Homo sapiens: one gene and its partners. The protein of the gene in region 7 purifies or fractionates together with the protein of the main gene of each other region. This does not show direct contact. Each region holds a gene or a part of one and is shown on either strand. Other genes may lie near its edges. The genes, in order: PARG, TPR, ZC3HAV1L, HARS1, RRBP1, CAST and PCLAF.

Region 1 (3,957 bases), on a different chromosome or scaffold from region 7:
TCTTCATGGATCTGTGTAGGAGTTCCCTGTAGATAAATTACTGATCCCCCATCTACTATCCCCAGTATGTAATGGCTGAATTAATACGTAATCAACTGCATTGTATCTAAAGCCTTAGAACTAGTCAGGTGCTCCTCCCACCTAATACCATTTCTTACCCCGTAATCCTACCTGATTTTTAACAAACCATTAATAATTCTAATGATAATCTCTATTTTGTTTTGTTTTTTTGTAACTGTTTTAAATAAATCAATTTGTACTGTAAAAAAGAAAAATAAACAGTCTGCTTTTCTTTTCTTTTTTTAAAAAAAGAGCCCATTAGAAGATTGAGAAACACTGTCCCCAAGGAATAAAGCCTTCAAAATACATTATGATATAACATATCAATGTTTTCCATGTAAAGAAAAAAAACAGGAGCTACAGAAAGGTATAGAAAGTTTAACAATAACTTGCAAGTATCAGTAGAAAACATTAAGAAAGCTGAGAAACTATATACAACAAATTAAGTCTCTGAAAGAAAATAAAACTCATTTTCATAGAAGTATAAAAAATTCTGTCACTGTTTATATTTATAAAAACATGAAAAGTTTTCATGGCTATAGTGCCCCCAAATATAAATATATATATATACACACACACTCTCACTCATATTTTAGATATTAGAAAAACAATCTACTAGTTACCCTTGCAGTCATAAATGAAATATAAATATATCAAAAATAAATTATTGCCAAAATATAAGATTAATAAATTATTAAACTGCTAGGAGCTATATTAAGGGCAATAAAAACCAGAATGCTTAACATATACTTTAATCATTGGGAAACTCAGCTTCCCTTTGGGCAAATATTGCTGAAGTCATAATTCTTTCCTGATTTACTTTTAAAGATATTTCAGAAACATGATAATTTTAAAACAAAAAAAAGAAAGAGAAGCTTGCACTGAAGGAAATTGGATGGGGAATCAAGAAACAGAGGTATTATTCCTGGTTCTCCAAATTATTCTGTGTGGCTCCAGGCAAGGCATTTGCAACTCTCAGTTCTTCTCATTTCCTAGTAGAATGTCTCTAAGGGGCCTTCCTTAGTGCCAGGAAGCAAGCATTTTGCATCTAAACAATGTTGCTACCTGAGTCTATTAAGACCAAAAAGTCTTTGAAAGAGGAGACACAGGGCCCATAAACAGGCAAGCATGGTAAAAACAACATACCTTCAAGTTTTGGGGTCGTGTAAATTTGTTGAGAAGTGCAGTCTGAATGAGCTCCCACCGGCTCCCCGCAGTTCGCTCACCATTCTTTTGGAAAAAAGAAAAACATATGAGGAAGCTATTCTAAGTTGTTTTGCATCACAGAATCAAAGGTCAAACAAGCAAGTACCAAACCATTTTTCAGAGACTAAAAGAATCTCGGTTTTGTTCTTACCTCATCTTCCACTGGGTACAAATTTTGTTCTGAACAAGGCATTTTAACATGCTTGTTATCCCACAAATCTTTATAATGTGTTGGAAAAGGTTTAGGAACTTCTCCTGCTCGCAAAAGATCTACCTGAAATTGAGGGTAAACAAAATTGTCAGTGCATAAAAACAAAATGTATCTTCTATAAAATAATCCTAAGTAACCAAAGCAAATGCTATAAAATAGAGACCAGCTCCCAGGCAAGAAATCACCAAAGAACCCTTCAGTTCTTCCCATTCCTCACCTCCATTCAACCAGGTCCAAGTCACCAGATATAGTATATATTCTAGCTCCATATCCCCTAGGAATCCTTCCTTGCCTCAGCTTTTACTAAGTGTTTCCTATCCTTCTCCCTAACTCCAGCTGTTGCTAGACACATCTAGCCCCCATAAAACCCTTTCTAAAGAACTCCCAGGCTTCTAATGCTATAACGCCTATACTCTGATTCTAAGTGTCATCCTGATTTTCATATACGTTCTTATCAAAACACCATTCATTCCAAACAAATCTTAAACAACACTTAAAATTCCTTAAACATAGCAAATTCATTTTCATATTTATATGCCTGTATACATACTACTGTGGCCTCTCTTTTTAATACCACTACTACCAATTGCCACCTCCCCCACTGTATCTGGTTAAATCTCTATTGTCACCTTCATAGCTCTGCCAGATTTTCATTATCTTTATGAAGTCTTTAGAAACTTCAAAGTAGTCAGCTATTTATCTTGTTTTGTTAGATTATTATCATGCTAGAGCACACTTGTCTTCCTCTCCCTCACTAGATCCCAAACTTCCTGAAAATAACCATATTAACTTTGTATTCTGAATATGTAAGATAGAACCTGGTATGTGTACATGTGTACGTGTACACATGCAAATATATATATACACACATATGCTACTATAATAACTATTAAGTAAATGTTTGAGGAAGTGGTACAGTAGGTAGCCAGTCAGACATGAGCAGGGCAGGACAGGGCCCCTACCACTACCAGGAATGTCAGACAACCCTCAAGTGATGCACAGGGAGTTGTGAAACTGCCTCTGTAAAATAATTGGAAGCAGCCGGCGCCAGGGAAAGGAGTCACCCAATAGATAGAAAAATCTGAAATTGGTGATCAGCAGCTTCCTGTTAAGATCTTAGGAGTTGGGCAAGTCAGCTCCAGCATGTGTACTAGGGAGCAAAATGGCAAAGTTTAACTGGTATATGACCTTATAAGAACACTCAACTGGTAAGGGAAGAATACCTCAAGCAAGCATATGTACAACTCCAGTAATCACACCGCGCATGCAGACAGCCCATCTCAAGGGAAGAATCAGGGGAGAAGGGGACACAACCCCCTGGAAGCATGCCAACATATAAAACCTCAAGTCAAAGGTCAAACTGTGTACTTGATCTCTCAAGTCGCCCGCTTGGCCCTCTTCCAAGTGTACTTTACTTCCTTTCATTCCTGCTCTAAAGCTTTTTAATGAACTTTCACTCCTGCTCTAAAACTTGCCTTGGTCTCTCATTCTGCCTTATGCCTCTCAATCAAATCCTTTCTTCTAAGGAGGAGTATTAACATTGCTGCAGACCCATATAGATTTGCCACTGGTAAGAGAAAGAGATTATGGTTTAAAGTTTAACATTATGCCTATTCTGGATATTTCATATAAAAGAAATCATATAATATGTGGCCTTTTGTGTCTGGCCTTTTTCACTTAGCATAATGTTTTCAAGATTAATCCATGTGGTAGTATGTATGAGTACTTCACTGCAGAGCATAATCACATAAATATATAATTTCACTTGTAATATGTTATGAATACGAGGAACACTGTGTTATGAGACCAGCTCAGATTTAGTTTATCTGGTAAACTTAGGTAAGGCTTCCTTGAGGAAGTGGCAACTGAGCTTAACTCTAAAGGCTAAAAAATTAACAAGGAAAAGGGTGAAACAAAAATAAAATTCTAAGCCCCGCAACCAACTGAATGGGCCCCTCCCTCAGCCAAGGGCATTCTAAAGCAAACCCCATACACTAGTTCAGGCCATGATGGGAACGGGTGGTTGGACATGCTTCATTATACCTTCCTCCCTTTGAAATTTAGATGTGACTGACCAGCATTAACATTAAAACAGGTACTTTAAGACTGACAAGGCAGACTCTTTATAGCAATTAAGATACCAACATGACAGATACCAAGCTCTGAAAGAAACGGAAGTATTTTACCCCAAAATGTATTTATTTGAAATATTTTGAAATGGCCCTGCTAAACTGTGTCTTGTGGGTAAAATCTACATTGTGTAGAGCAAGGGTCCCCAACCCCCCGGAATCCAGACAGGCATGGACTAGGGGTCTATGGCCTGTTAGGAACCAGGCTGCATAGCAGGAGGTGAGCAAGGCTGAGCTCTGCCTTCTGTCAGGTCAGTGGCAACATCAGATTCTCATAAGACGAAGAACCCTATTATGAACTGTGCATGGGAGGGATCTAAGTTGCACACTCCTTATGAGAATCTAACAAAT
Region 2 (3,957 bases), on a different chromosome or scaffold from region 7:
GTTAAGGAAACAAAAGTTACCCGTAGGTCAAGGGTTCAGGGCCTGTCTGGCATGGTAAATTTCTAAATTCATATGGTTACAATAAAAAAATATAAGCCTTTGCTAAACTCCTCTAACTGGAACTATCGGGCAAGTTATCAGACTCCTATCTCTGATTTACAATCCAGACCACTACAACTCTGACTGTAGAGAGCACTGGCAAGGAACTGCAGACACCTTAAGCTAGTTTCAACCTGCTTAAAGAGGCTGCGCACAAACTGTCTTTGTGTCCTGTAGTTCACCTTTTGTTCACTCTTCACGTAAAGAGCCAAATTCCAGCTCATTTTCATGCTAAAACGCTGCCCCAAAGTGAACATGGGATGTATATTATATATATTTACCTACTGTTTATATGCTCAGTTCCCCTCATAAATATGTATAGCGTTTCCCCAAAACCTGCTGAATATGCATGACTCTATTGTGTAATAAGGACCCTGTGAGGCATAAAACCACACCTGTCCCTGCCCTGTGTGAAGACAGAACACCTTTGGTCCACGCTGGAGACTATTTCTTCCTCATGAGCAAAATGATATCACTAATAAAGCTCTCCTTTCTATTAAACACTATTTAGCCACCCTGGGGGTCTTCTTGATGACAATATGAATTCTCATTTTGTGGGACAGAAGGAAGAAAGGAAAGTAATAATATTCTGAGTGCCTAATATGTGGCAGGTACTACTTTAGGTATTTTACAATCCTAAAAATTATATTTTTTGACAAGTGAGACAATGCAGGGAATTAATGATATGCTTACAGTCACAAAGCTTCCTAGTGGTGGAGCTAGGAATGACACCTCATGCTTTGTAACTTCAGGGTCTATATTCTCTCCGCTAGTAAAACTGCTAGGGGAACCTCAATGAGAGATCAAAAAATGAAGAGGTATATAAATGCATTTCCTTTTATGGATTACTTTAATTCTGTAAGGGAAATAATACAGGGGAGTAAGAGAGAACCAGCAAATGGGGCACTATAAATTAACTCAAGATGCAACCAGCACTCTTGTATTTCATGTAATTAAAATAGGGAAAAATCTTGGCTCACAACTCTAAAAAATCTGGAAATCTGTGCTATATATGAACAAAAACATTTCTTTAATATAAGTTTAGAAGGCAGTACACTATACTCATAGGAGTAAAAGAAAGCAGACTCTGCAATGATTAATTCTAGTAGTATTTCATTACATATAATAAGAACAAGCTAAAAAAAAAAAGACCAAATAATGTTTCAATTTGTCAAAGCTAATTTCATTCACGAAAAGCAACGGTGTGGTACTTTAGGTATGTTTTTACTTACTTCTCCAATGGAATCTTGAGAATCCTGGTTGTATACCTGAGTCTCTACCTCTCCATCAGTACTTTCTTCTGCCATAACTTCTTCCTGTATCATAATACACTAATATATTAACCATATCAGTGTAGTAGATGAAGGGTTACCTGTTTTTGTTAGTTCTCTCATTTGAAAAAACCCTTCAAATCTATATTTTATGAAACTATAGAAAAATAAAAAAATTTTATTTAAAAATTATAATCACATTCCTCCTCAGTATACACAAAGTAAGGTTTATGAACATTAATACATGCTAATACAATTAATTTAGTAGCCTTAATGTTTGATTTGAAACCTGCTTCATTACAATTTAATCTTAACCACAAAAAGGAATATAATTTTGGCTAATCTTAGAAAAAGATAGCAGGTAACAGTTTATGTCCATGAGACTTAGAAACTTCGAGATGAAATTCAACTTATGTTTTTATGACTGAGCTTTTTTATTGAAATAGAAACAAATGCAATTAAAGATATGCAAGAATATAAAACACTGTTGGTAATAATACCTGGGTTGTCAGTGGAATCTTTGTAGAAAGTTCAATAAAAGTGTTTTCCAGATAATATATTTTGGCCCCAAAAGGTTAATTTTCTTTAGGCTGTAGCTGAAAAGAGTACCTTAACTCTACTGGTAAAAGTTAAAATACACAGAAAGAACTTTACGCACCTCAGTTCCTACAGGTGTGACACTTTTCAACTTCTTTGGAAGAGGCATTTCCACTGTATCATCAGAGACTTGGTCTGATGCTTCTATGGTGCTATCCTCTTCCTCTTCACGTGTACGCTTTGGCAAAGAAGAACTGGGGGTAGCCGAAACTTTGAAATTATATAAATCTTGAATTAGAGCATGATAATAACTCAATTTAGATAAAGATAGTTTACCCAATATGGTCACTTAACTAAAGGAGAACACAGTAAACATTTAATTGTACAGATTACTAAAATACAATCAATCAACTCCTAGATCAATGTCCATCAACATAATTTGTTTCTGCTAAGCTATGGGTAAACAAAGAGCAACTTATGCTCTGAGTCAATGTTTTTATACCAACCCAAGCTTTGCTTAATAAAGCCAGCCAATTTTTACAATATATCTGGTTCACTGAGATTGTATTACTATGTTGTTATCTACAAAGTTTACATGGGACCTTCTATAAAACTCAGGACTCCTTGAATAAGAAAAAATGTACACTGTATGTAAATCAGTATATAGTCTTATCTTAGGTGTCTTTTAGTCCTCAGGACTTCCGTTAAATTATATACAATGTTTTGCATTAATATGTAAGACCAGTAAAAAAAATAACTGGAGGGGGAGAATCATCTTAATGACAAACAACTGATTTAAAATAGTCATATTCAGTAGTAAACATGAAATAAAATGTTAGTAATATATTCATTCATTCTAATTCCTGGTAGAAAGCATGTATGCACAAAGAATACTTGTGATACGTATTATATCCAAGATATTATAATTGCGTAGGTCTATTCTAACTTCATTTGTACAAAGAATACTCAAGATATATATACTCAAGATACACTCAAGATCTTATAAATGCATAGGTCTACTCTGACTTCATTTTAAAATTAATTTTACCTGTGCCAAATACTGCTGTGGAAGTAGAAGGCCGCTCAACTGGTGAACTCTGAACAACCTCTACTATGTTTGAAGATAACTCTTGATTGGCAGGCTCAATCTGAGGATGACTCTGTTGAGTGGGTTGCACAAAAGCTGTAGCCTGTGTTTGTTGCTGAACAGTTAAAATAGGTTGAGAGATAGAAGGCTGGACATTAGGACTAGTAGAACGAACGGATCCACTTGTGCTTCCAAAAACTGGAACATGTTCCACAGGCCCTTCTGACTGCATAGCTGAAAAATAATTATAATGCTGAATATAAGCCTTCTACTTTTATCAAAGCTGAAATTATCCTTCCTATTCTGTGGTACATGTCACCTTTCACACAGATTTGGCACTTGGTAGACAAATACATTGTAGGTAAAGGTAATGTATTATGCATTTTTATATTCCCTATGTAATTGATATGGTAGCATGCAATAAAATGTTGCCTGAATTAAATAAATATCTGTAACTGATTTTGCATCTATTCATTTAAATTACTGTTGAATAAAATTAATGAAATTAAGCTCAAAGTAAAATTAGAATTTTTCATTAAGCATCATTTAGTTTTTAATTGATATAACAGATAGTAAATTTGATTAGTAATATATTTAGTTTATTGGATGTAGCTGAAATAAAACATTCTCTACTTTCACAGCACAGAAATACTTGAATAATTTACTGAATTCTAACATTTGTCAAGATAAGAATCTAAGGAAATATGCAGGTAGCAAAGTTTTACTGAACACCTACTGTGGAGTTAGGTAAAGGGATTAAACAATAAGAAGCTGAGATTTTTGCCCTTGAGGAGCTCAATGTAGTGGAGTAAAAAGCATGTATACCACAGAATAAAATACAAAGTTGTAATTGCTGTAATGAATAACAAGAGTGTCATGGGAAAAAATTGAAGAAAGCAATGAAATGGTCAGTTTCAGTGAGAAAGCAATGTTGGATTGAGCCAGTAATTCAGTATGATTTTC
Region 3 (4,446 bases), on a different chromosome or scaffold from region 7:
GGGAGCTACTTTAGATTTGAGAGGTCAGGAAAGGTTTTGCTGAAGAGAAGACATTAAAGCTCAGAGCTGAATGACACACCTTGAGTGGCACTCAGGAGACATCCACACTTCCCAGATGAAAATCCTTTAGTGACTTCCCAAAGTTCTCGGGATATAAGTCCAAATTTCACAGCATGGCAGAGAAGGTCTTCTGGCATCTGGCCAGTTGTCTTCCTCTCTAGCTTCTTTACATTACATGACATTAATGCATTTAATCCTCACGAGCACCTTGCAAAATAGCAGCTAGGCTGGCTGAGTTCTCTGATGGTCTGATTCATCTTTGTACTGTCACTGCGTTAGTAGTTGGCTCAACAAACGTTCATGAAACAAGCAAGGTGTTGGACAAAAAGCATGGATGCTTAAGGCAGGTCTAGACTGGTGCTGCTCAACAAAAATAAGGTAATCCACATTTGCAATGTAAAATTTCCTCATAGCTACATTAGGAAAGTAGAAGCAACACATGAAGTTGTCATAACATTTTATTTATCCAAATATATCCAAAATATTATGTTTAACATGTGATTCATATAAAGTTAGTGAGATATTTTACATTCTTTTTCTCATTCTCAGTCCTCAAAATCTAGTGTGTGTATTTCACACTTATATCACATCTCAATTCGGACTAGCCACTTTCCAATAAAGCTCAGCAGGCCCCGCGGGGTGGCTCACGCCTGTAATTCCAGTGCTCTGGGAGGCTGAGGCAGGTGGATCGCTTGAGGAGTTCGAGACCAGCCTGGGCAACATGAGGAGACCCCGTTTCTACAAAGCAAAACAAAAACCAAAAAAATTAGTGATGCGAACCTTCGGTCTCAGCTACTCAGGAGGCTGAGGTGGGAGGATCGCTTGAGCCCAGGAGTTCCAGGCTGCAGCGAACTACGATAGCGCCACTGCACTCCAGCCTGGGCGATAACGTGAGGCCTTGTCTCCAAAAATAAAAATACAACAACAACAAAAAATCCCAGAAGTGCTCAGCAGCCACATGTGGCTAGTGGCCACCTCCCGCGAAGCAGCCCGGCCACTCACCTCCTACCACCTTTTACCTATTTCTCCTTCTCCGCAGGCCTCCCTAGCACTACCAGTTGTCTTGTTGGCGAGTCCTTTGTGACTCCCACTATACAAGCCCCTCAAGGCCAGGCTTCGCCCTGAACGGTGCCTGGGCGGAGCAGACGCTCCATCAACGCTGTCCCCGCCTGAGTCCACGTCCAGGGGATCCGCAGGCGCCGTACCCTGCTTCCACGCGCCGGGGCCGCCCCTCGCCCGGCCTCCCGCAGGCCCACCCCTCGCCAGGCCCAGGCCCATCCCCGGGCTGTTCGCTGGAAATCGTGGACGTGACTGGGAGGAGCCTGCCCGCCCCGGCTCGCTGCGCCGCGCGCACAGGGCCCGCGCCAGCGACCATGGCGGAGCCCACAGTGTGCTCCTTCCTCACCAAGGTGCTGTGCGCCCACGGCGGCCGCATGTTCCTGAAGGACCTGCGCGGCCACGTGGAGCTGTCGGAGGCCAGGCTCCGGGACGTGCTGCAGCGCGCCGGGCCCGAGCGTTTCCTGCTGCAGGAGGTGGAGACGCAGGAGGGCCTCGGGGACGCGGAGGCCGAGGCGGCGGCCGGCGCGGTGGGCGGTGGCGGCACCTCCGCCTGGAGGGTGGTGGCCGTGTCCTCTGTGCGCCTCTGCGCCCGCTACCAGCGCGGCGAGTGCCAGGCCTGCGACCAGCTGCACTTCTGCCGCCGGCACATGCTGGGCAAGTGCCCCAACCGGGACTGCTGGTGAGAAGGCGGCGGCGGGCGGGGACTGTGGGCGCTGGCCGCGGGCCTGGCCGTCCTGCTGGAAGCGGGAGCGACGGGAAGGGGGGCTTCGTCCTGCCCCGGGCCGGGGACGCGGGGCTGGACGACCCCCTCCCGCAGGCCTTTCCTGGGCGTCCTCCCCCGCGCTTCCAGCAGCTGGGCGGAAAGGCGCGAAGGTCCTCTCCATGGAGACGTCTCAACCGCCCACGCCAGAAAAGTTGCTGCCCCCGCCCGCCCCCCCGGATCCTGCGCGACGCGGCCGGGTTAAATCCGGACTGGGACTTCGGAGCTCACTTATTCTGGTGATATTTGGCGGGAGGTGGGGGGCGTGGGGCGTCTGAGGATCCCATGAGATCCCTGGACCCTTTAGCCGGAAATCGCTGCTCCCCCATATCCACACACTTGTGCAGAAGCGGGTCTGCGCCCTCTAGGTTTAACAGCGCTGAGCCAGTCTCACCCCAGGAAACAGGGCTGGATGGCTTGGGTGAGGCCCTGTGGTTCCTGACTGCCAGAGCTGGGGTTCGGGGCTGCCTCCTGACCCCAGGCTGTGCTTCACAGCCCCGAATTTTCCTTGGTTGTCTCTAGCCACACACCCCGCCAAAGCGGTGCTGGGGATAGGGGCGCTTTCTTTTTAACGTTGGTGGACTGTGGCAGCTGTTGCCGGGGAGAAGGCCAGGTGCAGTCGCCTACGGAACAGATGTGCATCCTCAGGCGAGGTGGGCGACCCTTGGCTTCAAAGCATCCCTACTGAAAATTCAAATGACCCTGGGAGAGGAGTTCCTTCAACCCAATTTTCTTATTTTCCATCAGTGCTTATTAGGCCATACTATCCCCGGTTTCATGAAAATTACTCAACTTCACATGTATTAAATACATTGAAAGCTGCTCAAGGCAAGGAATTGGACAGACTGGTCCTTCTTCACCTGGGCATCTGACCGAGGGCTTTGTTCTTTTAGGTCTACCTGTACCCTTTCCCATGATATCCACACACCTGTCAACATGCAGGTCCTGAAAAGCCATGGACTTTTTGGTCTCAATGAAAACCAGCTTCGGATCCTGCTTTTGCAGAATGACCCCTGTCTTTTACCAGAGGTGAGTCACCAAGGAGTCACCCTCATGTCACATTTGCTACAAGTACTTTCCCCATTTATTTTTCTTTTGGCTTTACATATTAATTTTAATTGCCTTCGAAGCAACATGATTCAGTTTCAAATGCTTTAAAGGTACCCTTTATAATTGCTATCATGGCGAAATAGTACGTTTGTTTCAGTTTAGCCATACACAAAGAAGTTTTAAAAACAAAATAGTACAAATCCCAAGAGAAAATTGGAACATCAATTAAGACCACCAATTAAAAGCAAGATTTTCTAATCTAGCACAGTGATGCTATCATAGACACCTCCACTTGGCCAGAAGAGGGATGGGAAGAAGGGGAGATGTTGAGAAAACAGAGGATAGTTCATAATTGTGGCCTGATTTTAACTCTAATGCATTTCAGCGTCTAGAAAGGAAGATAGCCACAAGACTAGAGGTAGGAGCTGGAGCCTTTGGTGCAGGTGGCAGAGGCTGCTCTCAAGGCAGCAGAATCTGTACCCAGAAGGCAGTCCTGGAGTTGATCTCAGGAACAAGCAGGTTTCTTCCTGACATGCATAACCTGTTTCATTTCTTCGAGCACTGAAGCCAAGTCTGGTATGTCACGGTTGTGAGCCAGAGGCATTCCAACCAACCATGTTGCCCAAAGTAGATGCAAGCAGTAGCTGAAGCAGGTTATTGGCAGGAAGGGAGAGGAGGGTGGCTGCACCTATGAGGCTGGGTCCAGTCCTTCCTGTCTCAGAGAGAAGGCGTGGTGCCGCTGCTATTTGCCTTTTAATTTTATAGTACTTTTTGATTTATAGAAGTTTAGTGTTTTTATTTTGTCAAATCTATCGAATGTTTTTTTGGTATGCCCTTTTTTAGGATGTATCTTGGGCCCAGCCTCACCTTGTCATATTAGACTACTTCAGTGTTTTGTGAGCAGCTGATGGGTTGGCTGCACTTACAACAGGAGCCTCCCCTGTGCCTCCACTTGTCCCCATCACCTGGGACTGGAAGTAGGTGACATGTGGCACAAAACGTGATCATGTGGGCAGCAGGGACTGTGGAAAAACACAGTGCATGAGGCAAGAATGGTGCCTCACATCTCTTGTATGAAATGCCTGATGATTGCTTTTACCACTCTCTCAATAAAAAAGACAATAGACAGGTAAAGTTTCATGCTGGTGCATTGATGGACAAATTTCTAGAAAAATACAGCTTGTCAAAATGGATTCAAGAAGAAACGGAAAGCCAAAATAGTGTCATAAAAATTTTTAAAATAAAAGCATTAAACAAACCTCAAAGCATTAGTTAGAAGGCTTGCACAAGAAAACATCAGACTTATATAGTTTTTTTTTTTTTGAGACAGGGTCTTACTCTCTCACACAGGCTGGAAGTACCTCGGCTCACTGTAGCCTCTGCCTCCTGAGTTCAAGTGATTCTCCCACCTCAGTCTCCTGAATAGTTGGGACTACAGGCACGTGCCACCATGCCCAGCTAATTTTTGTACTTTTTGGTAGAGATAGCGTTTCACCATGTTGGCCGGGCTGGTCTTA
Region 4 (3,957 bases), on a different chromosome or scaffold from region 7:
GCTACTGGTCCCTCTGCACAAGGATCTTCTCTTGTGAGAGGCCAGGCCCAACTTTGCCCTCCCAGCCTTGTCAGCTCTGACCTTGACCAGGAAGTCGCCTATCTGAAGTGAACTCAGGATCTCGCACATGATCTTCAGGCACTCTGCATCAGGGATCATGGGATCAAAGTTCCCAGCAATGTCAAAATCCTGCAGGGAGAGGGTTAGCCAGCGGTCTTCAGGGATTCACCTTTCTGAAGGGGGGACTCTGGGAGCTCTGTCCTCTAGGAAGGCCTGGTTGCACTCAAGCATAGAATTTCTCTTTCATTTTCTGATCATCAGCCCAGAGGTAAACCCCGGCATCTTTGGGCTTCTCACCAGTTTTGGTTTCCTTTCCATCTACTGGGCTATTCCTTCATTTTCTACTTCATCATCTTCTTAACTCCTCCTACTGGATGGGGTGATTATATGGCTTTAGTGCTTAGCCATTTTCCCTATTCATCCAGAAGCCCTGGCATCAGTCTGGATGATTTGATGTATCAAAGCTAATTTCCTTATTCTCTGCTGTGATCCTATCACTGTGGTTTAAAATAAAGAGCACTGGACCAAGAGTTCTAGTCCTGACTTTGCCTTTCTTATCCCTATGATCTCTTCATGGGCTGGGTATCAAGTTTACTCATATGTAAAATGAAGAGACTTTATTCTCCTCCCCCACCACAGGGATTTTGTGAAATCTGCATGAAAACACCATAGAAGAGGCTGGGTGCGGTGGCTCACGCCTGTAATCCCAGCACTTTGGGAGGCCGAGGCAGGCGGATCATGAGACCAGGAGTTCGAGACCAGCCTGGCCAACATGGTAAAACCCCGTCTCTACTAAAAATACAAAAAATTAGCCGGGCATAGTGGCAGGCGCCTGTAATCCCAGCTACTCAGGTGGCTGAGGCAGAAGAATCGTTTGAACCCAGGAGGCAGAGGTTGCAGTGAGCCAAGACTGCACCACTGCACTCCAGCTTGGGCAACAGAGCGAGACTCCGTCTCAAAAAAACAAAAAACAAACAAAAAAACCACCATAGAAACCCTAAGAGCATTATCTGGGTCATCCAATTTGCTCAGGACACCGTGAGTACTCAATAGATTCTGCTGGCTTGAGAGAGCCCCAAGTAACTCATCCTGCCCCACGGTTTCCCAACACTCACACACTGGTAGAATTCCCGGTATCGGCCACGGGTCATGGCTGGGTTATCCCGCCGATATACCTTTGCTATGTGGTAGCGTTTAATGTTGGTCAGTTTATTCATTGCCAAATACCGAGCAAAAGGAACCTGATGACAAAGAGTTAAGGAGAAAGCCCCTCCTATCACTGTCTGCAAGTTGATTATCATCACCAACAGAAGCTGGGGTCTAACCCCTCCCTATGTGGGTAAAACTGCCACCCATAAGATTAATAGCACTTACAAACATCAGAAAGCATCAGCTGTGCTACCACATGAGGTAGCTGAAGGCTCAAAAAAGATTAAGGCACCTTTCCCTTTTGTAGTGTTGACTGGACTTTTTTGAGCATGGCAAGGGGCTGGGCAGGTTGGCCACAGACCAGAAAAAGGCGACCAGAAAAAGGCCCCCATATGGGATTTCTAAGCAGATGATTCTCTGTGTAGCTTGGAGACAAGGGAAATGTGTTGCTAGTCCATTAAGAAGAATTTTGTTCACTGGACAGGGCAGGGGAGAGGTATTCTGGAGCCAGGGGATGACTGTAGAGTTGGAACTGGGCCCTGACATCAAGCTGAGGTCTCACTCAGGATTCAGAAGATTTCTAAGGATGTGTATGCTCTGTTTAGCCAAAGTTCCACTCCTGGTTTAGAGAAATAATTCCCCTAATCGCCAAAGGCCTCATATTTGATCCTACCTACTCTACCATTCTTAAACCTGAGCCAAGTGAGTGCCAATCCATCCAAAGTCTCAAGAGCCCAAGTTTAGAAAGATACAGTGAGGTCATAGCGAAGGGACAGGAGCTCCCCGCCCTGGTCCTTCAGGTCATAGATAAGCTTGGAGTCTTCCCCATACTTTCCCATCAGTGTTTCCTGGAGAAAACATAAATAAATGTGGTCATAATAATAAACATAACAATTTAAAAGGAAGTTTTGAAAACAAACATGACTGATTCCAACTTGTCTACATTTCCCTCTGCTCTTTATCCCAATTCTTAGGTGTCTGATGTAGTTATCATTAAAAGGAAACACCAATTTTGTGTTTTTTTCTATTTTGATTTTGTAACAGAGCTGAAGTATTTTTCTTACACATTTTCCTCTTAAAAATCTTTTTTTTCTTCAGACTTCTCAGCATGAAGTTTGTTTTTTTTTTTTGAAATGGAGTCTCGCTCTGTCACCAGGCTGGAGTGCAGTGGCGTGATCTCGGCTCACTGCAACCTCTGACTCCGGGGTTCAAGAGATTCTCCTGCCTCAGCCTCCAGAGTGGCTGCGACTACAGGCGGGTGCCACCATGCCCGGCTAAGTTTTGTATTTTTAGTAGAGACAGGGTTTCACCATGTTGGCCAGGATAGTCTCGATCTCTTGACCTCGTGATCTGCCCGCTTCAGCCTCCCAAAGTACTGGGATTACAAGTGCGAGCCACAGCGCCCGGCCTGAAGTGTTTTTAAAAGATGCATAAATTCCAGTGAGAAGAAGCTCTGTACTTACTTCCTCCCTCATGTTATACTGTTAGGTGTTTAGGTTATTCTAATTTAAAAAAAAATTTTTTTAGGCCAGGCATAGCGGCTCACGCCTGTAATCCCAGCACTTTGGGAGGCCAAGGCGGATGGATCACCTGAGGTCAGGAGTTCGTGACCAGCCTGGCCAACATGGTGAAACCCTGTCTCTACTAAAAATACAAAATTAGCTGGGGGAGCTGGTAGGCATCTAATCCCAGCTATTCGGAGGCTTAGGCAGGAGAATCGCTTGAACCCGGGAGGCAGAGGGTGCAGTGAGCAGAGATCGCACCATTGCACTCCAGCCTGGGTGACGAGAGTGAAACTCTGTCTCAAAAAAAAAAAAATTCCCCATAACATTTCAATATCTAATATTTAGGTATATAGCTCTTTTTTTTTTTAAAAAAAAGTATTTTTCTTGATGATAAACTACTAGGAATAGGTTATCAGACCAATAAACATAAATGTTTTTTGATGCCTGAGATTCGAATAATGTCAAAAGTAAAAACTGGGGAATGTCTTAAGGGCATTACAGCAGTCCTTGCCCTGTGATGTCTATCATCGGTAATAGCATATTTCACTTACCAGGTTGGCAAAGATTAAAAAGCCTGAAACTTCCCAGTATGCAGTATCAGAAACAGTAACACACTAGTGTTACGGGCTGAACTGTGTCCCCCTGGCCCCACCCTCCCCAATTCATTTGTTTAAGTCCTAACTCCCAGTAACCTCTGAACATGTCTACATTTGGTGATAGGGTCTTTAAAGAGATGATTAAGCTAACATGAGGTCTCCAAGTTGGGCTCTGATCCAATATGTTGTTGTAAGAAGAGAAAATTTAGATAGGGACAGAGGGAAGACGATGTAAAGACAAAGGGAGGCTGGGCGCGGTGGCTCATGCCTGTAATTCCAGCACTTTGGGAGGCTGGGGTGGGCGAATCACTGGAGGCCAGGAATTCAAGACCACCAACCTGGTCAACATGGTGAAACCTCGTCTCTACTAAAAATAGAAAAATTAGCCAGGTGTGGTGGCACACGTGTTGTAATCCCAGCTACTTAGGAGACTGAGGCAGGAGAATCGCTTGAACCTGGGAGGTGGAGTTGCAGTGAGATGAGATGGTGCCACTGCACTCCAGCCCAGGCAACAGAGCGAGACTCTGTCTCAATTAAAAAAAAAACAAAGGGAGATGATGGCCATCTACAAGCCATGGAGAGAGGCCTGGAACAGATCCTTCCTTATGGCCTTCAGAAAGAACTAGGCCTGCCAACATGTTATGTCA
Region 5 (3,957 bases), on a different chromosome or scaffold from region 7:
GTATCTATATGAATATTCTCACAAAGTTTAGTCAAAAAATGTTACCAAATAGCACCCAGAACAATGTCACTTACACAGCAATTACCAACACACAAAGTAACGGCTGTATTTTGTTGGTAGAGATAGATACATGTAATAGAAGCAAAAGCAGGTGGAAGTGGTAAGTGGCCCATTCAGGGTGTTGTCCCCCTCTAGAAGGGAGATGACATATATATACATATACACATGTGTGTGTGTCCCCCCCCCACATATATATGTATACACAGGCACATACATATATATATAAATAAATATCTAAAGTGCATATGGCAAAATGTTAGGGTTTGGTAAACCTGGGTGGTAGGCTAATGGATGTTCATATTTTTCTTTTTAGTCTTTTGTATGAGTCATTTCATAATATTTTAAAAATTAGGAGCTGTTGATTCTGATGTAGCCATGTCTGCTAGGGTCTCTGTTTTATTGTCATTCTGTTTTAGTTCTGTACCTTCCTAGCAGGTCACCTTATGCCCAGGAAATGGATCTGGGGGTTGGTTTTCTTTGTCCACCCCTACCCCACAGCTTCTCCAAGCTTCCACACACGGTCCCCCGTGGAGCTGCTGCTTAGTAATGAGACAGAGTCCTGGGAGCTGTTGAGGGTCTTTTCACAAAACCTACCAAAATCCCAGCTGCCAAATTGGACCCAACTGGCTTGGCCGGGCCATGTGAATTAGCAGATATCTTCTGTGTCTAAAGAGTTTGGGGCTTCCTCTTACTTTTGTTCCCCGAATCTTAAGAACAGAAGAAGAGCCATTCTCTCAAGATCTTAGAGGTGGGCCAGTGAGTTCAGTCTGTCCAGCCTCTGCGCAGCCTCCTACATCCTTCCCTCTTGGGGCCTTCATCTTTTTGTCTTACAGTCTGAGTATGTTAGCAATATCGTAGTCCCCCTTTATCTATGGTTTCACTCTTTGTGGTTTCAGTTACCAGCAGAAAGCTGTGGTCTGACAATATTAAATGGAAAATTTCAGAAAGAAACTCTTCCTGAGTTTTAAGTTGCATGCCATTCTGAGTAGCGTCTTGCCTGGGATGTGAACGATCCCGTGTGCAGTGGATTCACGCCGTCTGTGTTACCTGCCTGTGCGTCACTTGGTGGCCCTCTCAGCTTTCAGATCCACTGTCTGGTATCACAGTGCGTGTGTTTGAGTCACCCTTACTTTACTTAATCATGGCCCCAAAGTGCAAGAGTGGTGATGCTAGCATATGGTTATAATTGTTCTATTTTATTATTGTTAATCTCGTACTGTGGCTAATTTCTAAATTAAATTTCATCATAGGTATGTAGGTATAGGAAAAAAATAGTGTATATAGGATTCAGTATTACTGCAGTTTCAGACCCACTGGGGGTGTTGGGAAGTTTCCCAGAGGATAAGGGAGGACCACTGCAGGGAGTAAAAGTACGTATTTGACAGAAGTTTCTGGAATTGACAGAATATAGATCCCTGTGGTCAGACCCTACAAGGTATGGGTGGGCACACATCTGCCCTAACTCTGGTGCAGTGGAGGAAGCCCTAGAAGAGGTTTCTGTTGGGGGCCTCTTATCATGGTGTGGATTTCAGGAGCAAATCTCCCGGAATGCTGATTGTGAGAACCGAATTTGAGAGGCATCCCTGGCTTCATCATTTCTGTGAATCAGGGATCTCCCAGCATGATGTTTACGCCTCACTGAAGCTGACTCTGCAAAGCAGCAGAAAGGTTGTTTTTCATTTCGATTTCTTTGCTGTCCGTGGTGGTATTGCCTTAGCCTTAAATGTTTCAGTGTATTACTACTTAAGACTAGGGCTTTTCATTTTCTTGTGAAAGATTTCTTTTAAAAAATTCTAACTTGGGAATTAGTGGTGGGGATGTAATTTCTTTTTCTGCAAAAGTTGGGAAGACACATTTGTGCTGCTATAAAACATATATTTGTGTGCGTTGCAAAGGAAAAATATTCTCCCGAGTTTGTTTTTCTCGATTCTGGGTCCCAACAGAGAATATGTTTTTGTATTCTGTGTTTGCCTATGTTGAGTAAGATTAAAAGTTCATTTTCCAGCCTTGGCTTTTCTGCTGGAGTTTAGAAGTTGGAAACCACAAGGCTGCACAGAGCCCCACAGTCCTCGGCTGTGAACAGGCCCCGCTTTGTGCGTGGCTGTTCACTGTGTCACGGTCTGCAACCAGTGCCAATCGCGACTCGGTAAAGACCACCCCTCGAGCACATGGTTGTTGGGAAACGATTCGGGGTTTATGGAGCCTCAGTGAGGGTGACCCAGGCCCCTAATGTTCGTTTCTCTAGAGAAGGGGAGTGTTTTAGAGGATTTTTTATTTTTTTTTAAATAGAGATGGGGTCTCACTATGTTGCCTGGGTTGGCCTTGAACTCCAGAGCTCAAGCGATCCTCCCTCCTCAGCTTCCCAAGGTGCTAAGATCACAGGCTTGTACCACCATGCCTGGCCTTAGGATTTTTGAATGTAGTGATTATAATGTGGTGTCCATTTTGGCAGAGTTCTGAGAAATCTTGTAAGTACCCAGAGGAGTTTTGGTTGGTGGGTACCTGCCAAAAAGTGAGGGTTGACTGTACCATGTTCCAGACCTTCTTGTCCCCATCCTCCTACCCACTGAATCCATCCATGGCTGAGCAGGGTGCGATTTCCTTTTTAACACCCAGCTTGAGAGTGTGTTCTCGGAAGGCCAGTTCCTGGTATCCTCCCTCGATGATCAAACGTGAGAGTGCCCTGGCTGTGGATCACACTGTCACTGCCCACGGCCAGAGGTCAGAACCCATTTGGAAATATAAATGCTGCCTTACCCAGGATTCAAAGGCCTCCATGAGCTCCCCTAAGACTTTGTAGAGGTTAAGACTGGAATGAAAAGTGTGACTCAGTCTCGCTCAACGCCGAGTGACAGTGTGGGAGAAGTGTGTTGCCACAGCAGCTGATAGAGTTGTCCCCAGGGAGAGCATATGCTAGGAAGTTTCTTCGTCATGAGTGTTTTAAACCCTCTTCTTGTGAAGGTCTTAGAAAGGTCAAAGTAATGTGTTCCTTCTGTGATGAGAGTGATTTTTTTTTTTTTGAAAATTTTTTTTTTGAGACGGAGTCTCGCTCTGTCGCCCAGGCTAGAGTGCAGTGGCGCGATCTTGGCTCACTGCAAGCTCCACCTCCCAGGTTCATCCCATTCTCCTGCCTCAGCCTCCCGAGTAGCCTGGACTACAGGCACCCGCCGCCACGCCTGGCTAAGTTTTTTGTATTTTTAGTAGAGTCAGGGTTTCACCGTGTTAGCCAGGATGGTCTCGATCTCCTGACCTCGTGATCTGCCTGCCTTGGCCTCCCAAAGTGCTGGGATTACAGGCGTGAGCCACCGCGCCCGGCCGAGAGTGATTTTTCTTAGAACACAATGCCAAGACATTGAAAACAGTCTCCCTTCTCAGTCCCTTCTTTAAAATGCCCTCATGTCAAAATTTGGATTTGATTCCTACTCTGTTTCCTTCCTCTATAACCACTCAAGAGGAGTGGGGATCTCAATGTCTTAGGAGAAGAATCTCAGTATCTGAGCCACTAAGCAGCCTGGACCCAGTCTCCCACAGCATCTAGAGGTTTTGCAGGGCAATGCTGGGGGAGGCCTGTCCACTTCCCCTCCTCTCCTCTTCCACCTCCTTTTACCTCCCCTTAACCACCCCTTCTTACCCTTGTGTTCTCTTTGCTCATTCCATCGATCTTCTTTAGAGAGACTCGGGACTGGCTTGAATGTATCCAAATAAATACACCTCCTGGAGTTCCTCAGTGAAGTCGAACTTAGCCCGGGCTGTGGCAGGAAGGTGTATGAACCTGGATGCCTCTGACCCATTGGACTTTGGTCCATAGGCAGTGAGAATGGTGTTGTTCATTCTTATGGTTTGGGGAGTGTTGTCTGACAGAGGGGCCTGCTGACACTGTCTCCTCACCCTCTGTGC
Region 6 (4,681 bases), on a different chromosome or scaffold from region 7:
AGTGTGAATTGAGATGTGCTGTTAATGTAAATATACATTGGATTTTGAAGAATTAGTATAAAAAAGAATGTAAAATATCTCAATGGCTTATACACTGATTACATGATGAAATAATAATATGTGGGATATAGTAGGTTAAGTAAAATATATCAATTAGCACAAATTTCACCTGCTTTTTGTTGTGATGTTGTTGTTAAAGTGGCTCCTTGGAAATCTGAAATTGCAGACGTGGCTCACATTATGTTTCTATTGAATAGCACTGGTTTGGGCAAAGCTAAAGCTTGATCACAGGCATGTAGCTGGTTCTAGGAAGTTCCTACTAGCAAAAAGTTTTCATGGTAGTACCAAAATGGGATTCTAAGAGAGGTTTTAGCAAAAACATCAGACTGTGACTAAACAAAACAGGGTTAAAAGCATAGATTCAAACTACTTTCATCCAAGTAACCCAGCAGAGTTTCCTTGAGAGAATCATGAGTCTGGAAGGAGAATTTTGATGTCAACTCTGAACTACTGCTATCCATATTTGCAGATAAGGTACATGGTACATTTTGATAAGAACCTTAGGCCAATAATGACTCAAAGCAAATTGATGTGGTTTGTTCTTACCACATCAATCAAATGCTACATGTAAAAGCCCAGGAAATGTACTGGAAAACATTCATGAAGAAGTATCTCAAGGGAAATTGGAATTCCAAATTCTTAAAAGTATATGTGTATGACATTTTGACTTTTAAATCTAATTAGTCCTCACCAATACTTATGTAGTGCATATAATTTCTATTTTACACATGTGAAAACAGGTTGAAAAGGTTGACTTATTTCCATTTGAGAAAAACTCTTTGTTCTCCACAGTGTACATGGAGGCTTTAAAAAGCACCTGTAGGCCCAGTGCAGTGGCTCATGCCTGTAATCCAACATTTTGGGAGGCTGAGGTGGGAGGATTGCTTGAGACCAGGAGTTTTAGACTAGCCTGGGCAACATAGTGAGAGAGACCCTGTACAGTATATTGTATGTGTGTGTGTGTGTGCATATATATATATATTTACACATATATATGCACACACATATATATGCACACACACATATATTTACATATATATGCACACACATATATTTACATATATGTGTAAATATATATATGCACACACACTGTAAATATACACACATACACACTATACATATATACTATTTATATAGAAACGGAGAATAAAAAATAATCTAAAAAAAAACACTACTTGTGGGATATAATTCTGCCTGGCACATAATAGATGATCAATAAATGTCCATTGTCTGATAAGTAACAGTTTCTTTCTTGATTCTTATACAGGGTAGCTAGCTCCAAAGAATGTCTGATTCCAACATCTTTGCTTTTTCCAATACCACATGCCAAGAGAGAAAAAGACATACCTAATTTTTTAATTCTCACCATAAATCAATGAGACATAAACATTTTGGCTCTCACTGTCAACAAAACTCCTGTGTGTGATTTTTTTTTTTTTTTTTGGAAAGCAATCTAATGTTAAATCATGCTTCCTGGTTCCAAAACACTAGAAGTGCCAGCTTGACTGGATATTACACCTAATTGGCAGGACAAACATTCAATGCACCAAACAAATGGAATGTTCTTGTCCCTCATCCAAAGTAATAAAGTGCAGAGAAGCTCGCTTTTGTGCGCGCTGTCTCTCTCTCCCTCCCTCTCTCACTTTCTCGCTTTCTTTCCTCCACCCCTCCACCGCTCTCTCCAAGGGTCTTGGTCTCAGATCTCAGTTGCTTCTGCCCCTTGATGTTTGGGATTTTCTCCTTGCCTCACATTGCAGCTGCCTCTCCTTTGCGTCGGCGAATGTACGTCCAACAATCGCCCTCTAAAAGTTTTGAACTTTACTTAGGGGTTAAAAAAGAACTCTAGATCAAAGCTCTTGCGAGCTGCGTCCTAGTGCATTCAGGAATCCACCTCCTAGACAGAATTCCTCCAGCAACAATTCCAGTTCCATCCCACTTGTGAGCGCCAGCAGAGCATAGTGCTTGACATCGGGGCGAGAGAGGTGCATGCGCCGCGCACGCTCGGGCGCGCTCATACATACCACAAGAGGGTGAGTCCCCTGCCTCTCCCCGAGCCTAACCTGAAGGTCTGCGAGGAGGTCGCACCCGGTCCGCACCCCTTCCCCGCCAAACCCCGGACAACGCTTCATCCGCACGCCCAGAAGGGCAAAGCAAACACACTCCCTTCCAACACACTCCCTTCCGGGTCCTGCCCAGGCACAACCGCTCCTATTTACCGTCTTGTACCACCAGCTGGCGAATGCCATGGCAACAACCGGCTGGCTCCGATCCGCACGGCGGGGGAGCCGGCGAGGGCGCGGGGTGTTGCGTTGGAGGCGCCGGGCTCACACTCCGCTTGGCCGGGACCGGGCTGGCACTGAGCTCCGCACATCCCAAGGCGGCTGCCAGGTGGGCAGAACCCTGGGGGTGGGGCCCGGCGCAGGCCCCGCCCCTCCTCGCCCGCCCAATTTGGCTCGAGGCTGGTTAGGGAAGAGGCTCTGCGTCTCCAGGCAGCCACGCCCTGCGGCCCGGCCTTAGCGCGGAAGACTACATCCCGCTGTCCAGTGAAACCACCCCACTCACTCGGGGGTCCTGAGTGAACCTCATTCCCCGTTCATCCTCATCCTCATTCACCCACGTCTTACCAGCCAACTTTTCTTGACGCGTCCCCCCCTCCACTCTACCCGGCCAACGCCACGCCCAGCGCACTGGACCCGGCCGGGGAACCGAAGCCACCTGCAGCCACCTGCCTGGCAGCGGCCAAGCCCCTAGCCCTCTCCCTGCCCCGCGGGGGCGCCGGGGACTGCAGACCCGCCAGCCTGGCAACGCCCAGGGAGGGCGGCCACAGCTCCGGGACCCGGTACCCCATCGCCCAGCCCCGCGACGCCGACAGGAGCGCCACTCACCTCATGGGTGCGGCGGGCGGCGGCTGCTCGCCGGGGCCGCGGGGAGGCGGCGGGCTTCTGGCCGGGCTGGGACATGGCGAGGCCGCTGCGGCCGCTGCCTCCCGGAATGCGCCGCGGAGAGTGGCGGGGAGGCCTGGCGGGGAGTCCTGCCAGGGAGAGAGGGAGGGAGGGAGGGAGCGGAGGGCCCGGGAGCGGGCGATGAAACAGCTTTTCCGACCCCACCCCAGGTCTGCGCCGGGGTTCCCCTAGCCCCGATGGGCCCTCCCCTTCCTGCCCGCGGAGGGACCCGGGCTCCTGCCCTGTAACTTAACACCCTCCGCCCCGGTCCTCACCCGGTGACCCGCCCCGGCCCCAGCACTGCTCTGGTCCCGGTTGGTCAGAAAGAAGGGGTTGGAGGTTGCAGCGTTCCTCCTTCGATGCCCAGATCTAGCTTGCAGTTGTGCAACGAGAGAGCGGGACCCGGGCGTGGCCAGTCTACGCTTCGACCCTCCTCCCAACAATCCGGAGAAGTAGATACTCTTTCTACATTCTGCTCCGCTTTAGCTGCGAGAGTTTACCAACTCAAATCTGGCCCAAGCCTGGACAGTCTAGATAAGGAAGCGGATCACAAAAACAAATTGGTCTGTGTGTGTGTGCGTGCGTGCACGCGCCTGTGTATGTTTTATATGATTTTACTTTGTTTTTTGGCAGTTTCGAATTTTAATAAACTTTTATGGGGAGGAGAACATAGGTTCCAATGCAAAACGGAGAACAGTCCCAAATTTAAACCCTTATAGTCTTTCTAGAGTCTGGCGAGTTTTGTTTCTGAAGCTAGATTGCTTTCTTCTTGGGCTCATCTTAAACAGCGCTTCCTGGTTTGGGGCTGGAAGTGAAATTTAACAAGCCCTACGTGCTTATGTGAGAAACTGTCAGCCTGCAGTTGCTGCTGGTTCACAATCAGGCCTGACAGAAAACCTGTTTGTTACCCTGCAGTAGCATCATCATTCTGGGACTTGGGGTCACCGCTTTCTGCAGCGTTGGGGTTTAGACAGTTGAAGAGAGAGAAGGCAGAGCCTTTTTTTTTTTTTTTTTTTTTTTTCTGGAGAGGCAGTTTCGCTCTGTCTGGAGTGCAGTGGCGCGATCTCTGCTCGCTGCAATCTCCGCCTCCCAGGTTCAAGCGATTCTCCTGCCTCAGTCTCCTAAGTACTTGGGACTACAGGCGCGTTGTCACACCCAGCTTTTTTTTTTTTTTTTTTTTTTTAATGGTAGAGACGGGGTTTCACCACGTTGGTCAGACTGGTCTCGAACAACACCTGACCTCAAGTGATCTGCCCAGTGCTGCCTCCCAAAGTGCTAGGATTACAGGCGTGAGCCACTACAGCCGGCCAGAAGGCAGATTTTAAGGAGAGATTTGTCATGCTATATGGAGCCTGGCAGAACAGAATTCTGGTTTCCTTTGTACCTCCTCATTTTAGGAATTCTGACTTCTTCTTCAAAGGATAGGCTAGCAGCATTCTTAATTTTGAGGGAGGGGATGCGGGGAGAAGAGGATTTAAATGCATTTCCTCTTAAAGTGTCGTACTTACTGTCTGTGTATCTAGTATTTCAACAAACAGGTAGCACTGCAGGAATTTATACATAAAAATGAAACAACTTAGATATTGGGACTATGTCCACTCAGGAAAAACAAATGATTGTTGGCATCGGTTACATTCAGAAAGGAGGGAAACTATGCCATAAGTCTGAAAACAAGATCT
Region 7 (4,681 bases):
GCTTTAAGCTAAAACATTTGCTTTAACAACTCTAGTTGTTAAAGAATGCTTACAAAAGTTGTTTCCATATAGACTCTGAAGTTATATTGTTTCTACTTATTTATTTACATTTATAAAAATAGCAATGGGGTTTTGCCACGTTGTCCAGGCTGGTCTCAAACTCCTGGCTGAGGCAACCGTCCCGCCTTCGCCTCCAAAAGAAGGAATGGCATATAAAAGATAGTGATCTTTTGGTTCACAGTTTTCCCAAAGGAACCTTACAGGAATGCTTTTACTACTAGAAAACATACAGCAGCAGCTGGGCGCAGTGGCTCACGCCTGTAATCCCAGCACTTTGTGAGGCCGAGGCAGTTGGATCATGAGGTCAGGCATTTGAGAACAGCCTGGCCAACATGGTGAAACCCTGCCTCCACTAAAGATACAAAATTTAGCCAGGCATGGTGGCGCATGCCTGTAATCCCAGCTACTTAGGAGGCTGAGGCAGAAGAATTGCTTGAACCCGGGAGGCGGAGGTTGCAGTGAGCCGAGTTCATGCCACTGCACTCCAGCCTGGGTGACAGAGCGAGACTGTGTCTCAGAAAAAAAAAAAAATATAGCAGCAACAGGTTCAAACCCAACTCCACTGATTTAGTTGTGTGACCTTTATCAAGTTATATAACCAGATATTAAATTTCCTTATCTTTAAAATAAGGATATTACCCATTTCATACATCCAATTATTCGGATTAAAAATAGAGATTTTTAAAATGCCTTAAAGGATGCATTTATTCAACATATATTCAGTAAGGGCCTATTTAGTTGGCTCTGGTGATTCAACAGTGGACCAGACGATGAGATGCGGCTCTAATGAAATTTCATCAGGCCAGGCGTGGTGGCTCACGTCTGTAATCCCAGCACTTTGGTAGGCTGAGGCGGGAGGATTGCTTCAGCCCAGGAGTTCGAGACCAGCCTGGGCAATGTGATGAAACCCCATCTCTACAAAAAACACAAAAATTAGGCGGGCGTGTGGTGGCATGCGCCTACAGTCCCAGCTACTTGGGAAGAGCCTGAAGTGGGAGGATCATTTGAACCCTGGGGTCAAATCTGCAGTAAGCTGTGATTGCACCACTGCACTCAAGCCTGGGCAACAGAGTGAGACCCTGTCTCAAAAAAAAAAAAGAAAAAAGAAAAGAAAAAGAAACTTAGTCTAGTGGTACAGGGTATAAGTTACTCTAAAAAAATTCATCAACTTCTATTTCCTTTTATCTGAAGAGATAGAAATAGTAAATGTTTTCTAATGAAATGTTTATAATAGGGAGAAATTTGAATTGACTTTAAAACCCATGAAGTCCTAAACAGTGTTCACCTTTATGTTCTTAATTAAATCTTGTAGCGTTAATCTCCCTGTCTGCCAAATTTCCTACTGAAAGGAATGAGGCACCAGATGGCAGGGCATTTTCTCATCTACTCCACGCACAGAAGGAGCAGCGTGAAGCTATTTCCTTTGCCGGGTTTCACTCCTACTCTCCCAAAGACAGTATTAGGAGCTGCAAAGTTGGAGAAAACCCACAGACATCATACTCAAACAAACAAACAAACAAAAAAGAGTAAGGAAGAAAGGAAAAACAAGCAAACAAAAACAAAAACATTTTTATTAAAGTTTAGTAGACATTGCAATGAGCACTCAGCACTGTTAACGATTGTTCAAACCCTTAATCTACTAAGGGGGCTTTTAAATAGCCTCTAACAATATTTAAATAGCCTCTGTTATTATTAAGAAAAATAATAGCTGGGCGTGGTGGATCACGTCTGTGTTCCCATCACTTTGGGAAGCTGAGGCAGGCAGATCATGAGGTCAGGAGTTTGAGATCAGTCTGGCCAACATAGTGAAACCCCATCTCTACTAAAAATACAAAAAAATTAGCTGGGTGTGGTGGCGTGCACCTGTAATCCCAGCTACTCAGGAGGCAGAGGCAGGAGAATCGTGTGAACCCGAGAGGCGGAGGTTGCAGTGAACCAAGATCACACCGTTGCACTGCAGCCTGGGCAACAGTGCAAGACTCTGTCTCAAAAAAAGAAAGAGAAAGAAAAAGGAAAATACTAAACCAAAAAACAAAAATTGATAGGCTGGCTGTGGTGGCTCATGCCTGTAATCCCAGTAGGAGGATTGTTTGAGCCCAGGAGTTTGAGACCAGCTTAGGCAACATAGTGAGACCCCCATCTCTACAAAAAATAGAAAAAAAAGCCCGGCGTGGTGGCATGTACCTGTAGCCCCAGCTACTTTGGAGGCTGAGGTGGGAGGATTGCTTAAGCCCCATAAGTGGAGGATGTAGTGACCAGTGATTGCACCACTGCACTCCAACCTGAGCAACAAAGAGAGGCCCTGTCTAAAAAAAGAAAAGAAAAGAAAAATAGGCTTGAAGATAAGGTGTGTCGGTCCTTAACTCCAAGGCTTGAAATTCCCTTCCATGAGACCTCCCCCCCACCTCTACCCTAGCCGGCCAAAAGGCCCAGCCTCTCTTATTATATCACAGGGCAAGGAAGAAATTCGGGCGTGAGTACCTCAAGAAAAAGAAATTCATGGCAAGCCAGGGGCTTGCAGGTGCCAGGACTGATCCCCTAACTTTAGGAGGGCTCTTCTTACCTTTCCTCGATGAAACTGATGTCGAATTAGTGGCAGAGGTGGAAGAACCAAGCACCTTTCTGGGGGCTCGAGCAGCCACCACTGTGAAGAGAGGCAAAAAAGGGTGTTCAGAAGGGGCAGGAGGGTTCCGACACCGAGTCCTGGACCCCAGCAGCTTGGAGAGGAGAGCCTGGCGATCCAGAACAGCAGGATAACCTTACCCTGCCCCTGCGACTTCCTCTTCTAGGTAAAGGGGCCAGGCGGCTACTCCCTGGCTAGCTAGATGAGTTTGGCGCACAGGGCCCAGGGGGACCTCTGGCGTCTGTCGCCCGTGGCCAGGCTGCCGGGAGGACCCCCCCGCCCTCCAGTACCACACTCGATCGCCTCACCTTTTCTGTAAGTGCCTGGAACACTGTCTGCTTTAGTCCGCACCATGTTCAAACAAGAAGAGAGGAGAGGAGAGAACGAACTGACTTCCCAGCCGAGGGTGTTTCACTGGACAAGGACCCGAAAACTATCCCGCCACAGTTTATATTGGTCTCTTTCCCGCGCGCTCCAAGGTCTCTCCCGAGCCACCGCTCCCATTGGTTCCGCGCCGTTCCCCCTGAACCAATTGCCAATGCCCAGTGGTGACAGCGGCGAGGCTTCTTGCAGCGCGAATCCGTCCATCAACACGCAAAGGCCTAGGATTCGTAGGCGCCCCAGGTGGGCGGTACCAGGACTCTCCAGGGGTACCCGACTAGTGGGTGCTAAGTTTCTGAACTACAGAAATGAGCCTGCTTAGAAAAGAAAACCTAGCAAAGACAGCGAATTACAAACGATCTTCAAAAGTTACTATAGCTTTAAGTCCATAATGATTGACTCCTGGAGGTGAAACCTGAAATTAAGCGGACTTTTTGATGCAAATCAAAATTAAAAGAACTTGAGAACTTTCCTTTAGTCCCCCAGGCATGAACTCTTTGTACAGCATCCATACTAAAACAATTCTATGGAATGGGGAAAAGGAAGCTAATACAACTTGTTTACAAGGGTTTTTTTAAATGTCTTTAGGATGATGTGAGACTAAACAAAAACTAGGGGGATTGTATATACATACACACATAAAAAGAAACTAATAAAACGTCTTCTTGAGAACCGAATGGTGTCAGAGCTCCTAAATAATCTGCCAAATCTGCCAGGAGCGGGGACTCATGGCTGTAATCCCAGCACTTTGAGAGGCCGAGGCGGGCAGATCGCTTGACCCCAGGAGGTCGAGACCAGCCTGACCAACACGGTGAAACCCGTCTCTACAAAAAATATACAAAAATTAGCCGGGTGCAGTGGCATGTTCCTGTAATCCCAACTACTCGGGAGGCTGAGGTGGGAGGATGGCTTGAGTTCAGGAGACGGGAGATTGCTTGTGCCTAGGAGGGAGAGGTTGCAGTGAGCCATAATCACACCATGCACTCCAGCCTGGGCGACAGAGCGAGATCCTGTCTCAAAAAAAAAAAAGAAAGAAAGAAAGAAAAGAAAAGAAAGAAAGAAAAGAAAAGAAAAAAGAAAAGAAAGGCAAGGCAAGGCAAGGAAATGAAATGAAACGAAACGAAACGAAAAGACCCTGCCAAATGTGGTAAGACCACATCGCTGTCACACAGTGAGCATAACTCTAGGATAAAGGGTCATAATTTTTTTCTATCTTTATGCTTACCTTCTAATTACTCACAACACCCCTGGGGAGTGATTTTCACTCTCTAAATACCATACATAAAACAGAATCGGTCAGGCATGGTGGCTCACACCTGTAATCCTAGCACTTTGGGAGGCCGAGGCAGGCAGATTGCCTGAGCTCAGGAGTTCGAGACCAGCGTGGGCAACATGGTGAAACCCAGTCTCTACTAAAATAAAAATAAAAATAAAAAATAAAAAATTAGCTGGGAGTGGCGGCATGTGCCTGTAGTCCCAGCTACTCTGGAGGCTGAGGCAGGAGAATTCCTTGAACCCGGGAGGCGGAGGTTGCAGTGAGCCGAGATCACGCTACTGCACTCCAGCCTGGGCGACAGGGCGAGTCTCCGTCTCTAAAAACAACAACAAAAAACAGGA

Evidence for each region.
Region 1: the proteins of PCLAF (region 7) and PARG purify together in Homo sapiens (affinity purification with mass spectrometry, with the first as the bait; one large-scale study listed by BioGRID). This does not show direct contact.
Region 2: the proteins of PCLAF (region 7) and TPR purify together in Homo sapiens (affinity purification with mass spectrometry, with the first as the bait; one large-scale study listed by BioGRID). This does not show direct contact.
Region 3: the proteins of PCLAF (region 7) and ZC3HAV1L purify together in Homo sapiens (affinity purification with mass spectrometry, with the first as the bait; one large-scale study listed by BioGRID). This does not show direct contact.
Region 4: the proteins of PCLAF (region 7) and HARS1 fractionate together in Homo sapiens (co-fractionation; one large-scale study listed by BioGRID). This does not show direct contact.
Region 5: the proteins of PCLAF (region 7) and RRBP1 purify together in Homo sapiens (affinity purification with mass spectrometry, with the first as the bait; one large-scale study listed by BioGRID). This does not show direct contact.
Region 6: the proteins of PCLAF (region 7) and CAST purify together in Homo sapiens (affinity purification with western blotting, with the first as the bait; one study listed by BioGRID). This does not show direct contact.

What each region holds. Positions count from the first base shown.
Region 1 is NC_000010.11:49,921,130-49,925,086, forward strand, and holds part of PARG (poly(ADP-ribose) glycohydrolase), read right to left. Parts: intron 1,541-3,957; coding exon 1,418-1,540; intron 1,291-1,417; coding exon 1,207-1,290; intron 1-1,206. UniProt on the Homo sapiens protein: Poly(ADP-ribose) glycohydrolase that degrades poly(ADP-ribose) by hydrolyzing the ribose-ribose bonds present in poly(ADP-ribose). PARG acts both as an endo- and exoglycosidase, releasing poly(ADP-ribose) of different length as well as ADP-ribose monomers.
Region 2 is NC_000001.11:186,330,167-186,334,123, forward strand, and holds part of TPR (nucleoprotein TPR), read right to left. Parts: intron 3,229-3,957; coding exon 2,956-3,228; intron 2,178-2,955; coding exon 2,029-2,177; intron 1,416-2,028; coding exon 1,332-1,415; intron 1-1,331.
Region 3 is NC_000007.14:139,033,005-139,037,450, reverse strand, and holds the start of ZC3HAV1L (zinc finger CCCH-type antiviral protein 1-like), read left to right. Parts: upstream 1-1,408; 5' UTR 1,409-1,433; coding exon 1,434-1,798; intron 1,799-2,772; coding exon 2,773-2,908; intron 2,909-4,446.
Region 4 is NC_000005.10:140,677,827-140,681,783, forward strand, and holds part of HARS1 (histidine--tRNA ligase, cytoplasmic), read right to left. Parts: intron 2,058-3,957; coding exon 1,962-2,057; intron 1,302-1,961; coding exon 1,176-1,301; intron 190-1,175; coding exon 82-189; intron 1-81. UniProt on the Homo sapiens protein: Catalyzes the ATP-dependent ligation of histidine to the 3'-end of its cognate tRNA, via the formation of an aminoacyl-adenylate intermediate (His-AMP). Plays a role in axon guidance.
Region 5 is NC_000020.11:17,661,401-17,665,357, reverse strand, and holds part of RRBP1 (ribosome-binding protein 1), read left to right. Parts: intron 1-3,957. UniProt on the Homo sapiens protein: Acts as a ribosome receptor and mediates interaction between the ribosome and the endoplasmic reticulum membrane.
Region 6 is NC_000005.10:96,660,762-96,665,442, reverse strand, and holds the start of CAST (calpastatin), read right to left. Parts: upstream 3,068-4,681; 5' UTR 3,021-3,067; coding exon 2,946-3,020; intron 2,419-2,945; exon of another isoform or gene 2,307-2,418; coding exon of another isoform or gene 2,277-2,306; intron 1-2,276.
Region 7 is NC_000015.10:64,378,335-64,383,015, forward strand, and holds the start of PCLAF (PCNA-associated factor), read right to left. Parts: upstream 3,108-4,681; 5' UTR 3,038-3,107; coding exon 2,992-3,037; intron 2,705-2,991; coding exon 2,624-2,704; intron 1-2,623. UniProt on the Homo sapiens protein: PCNA-binding protein that acts as a regulator of DNA repair during DNA replication.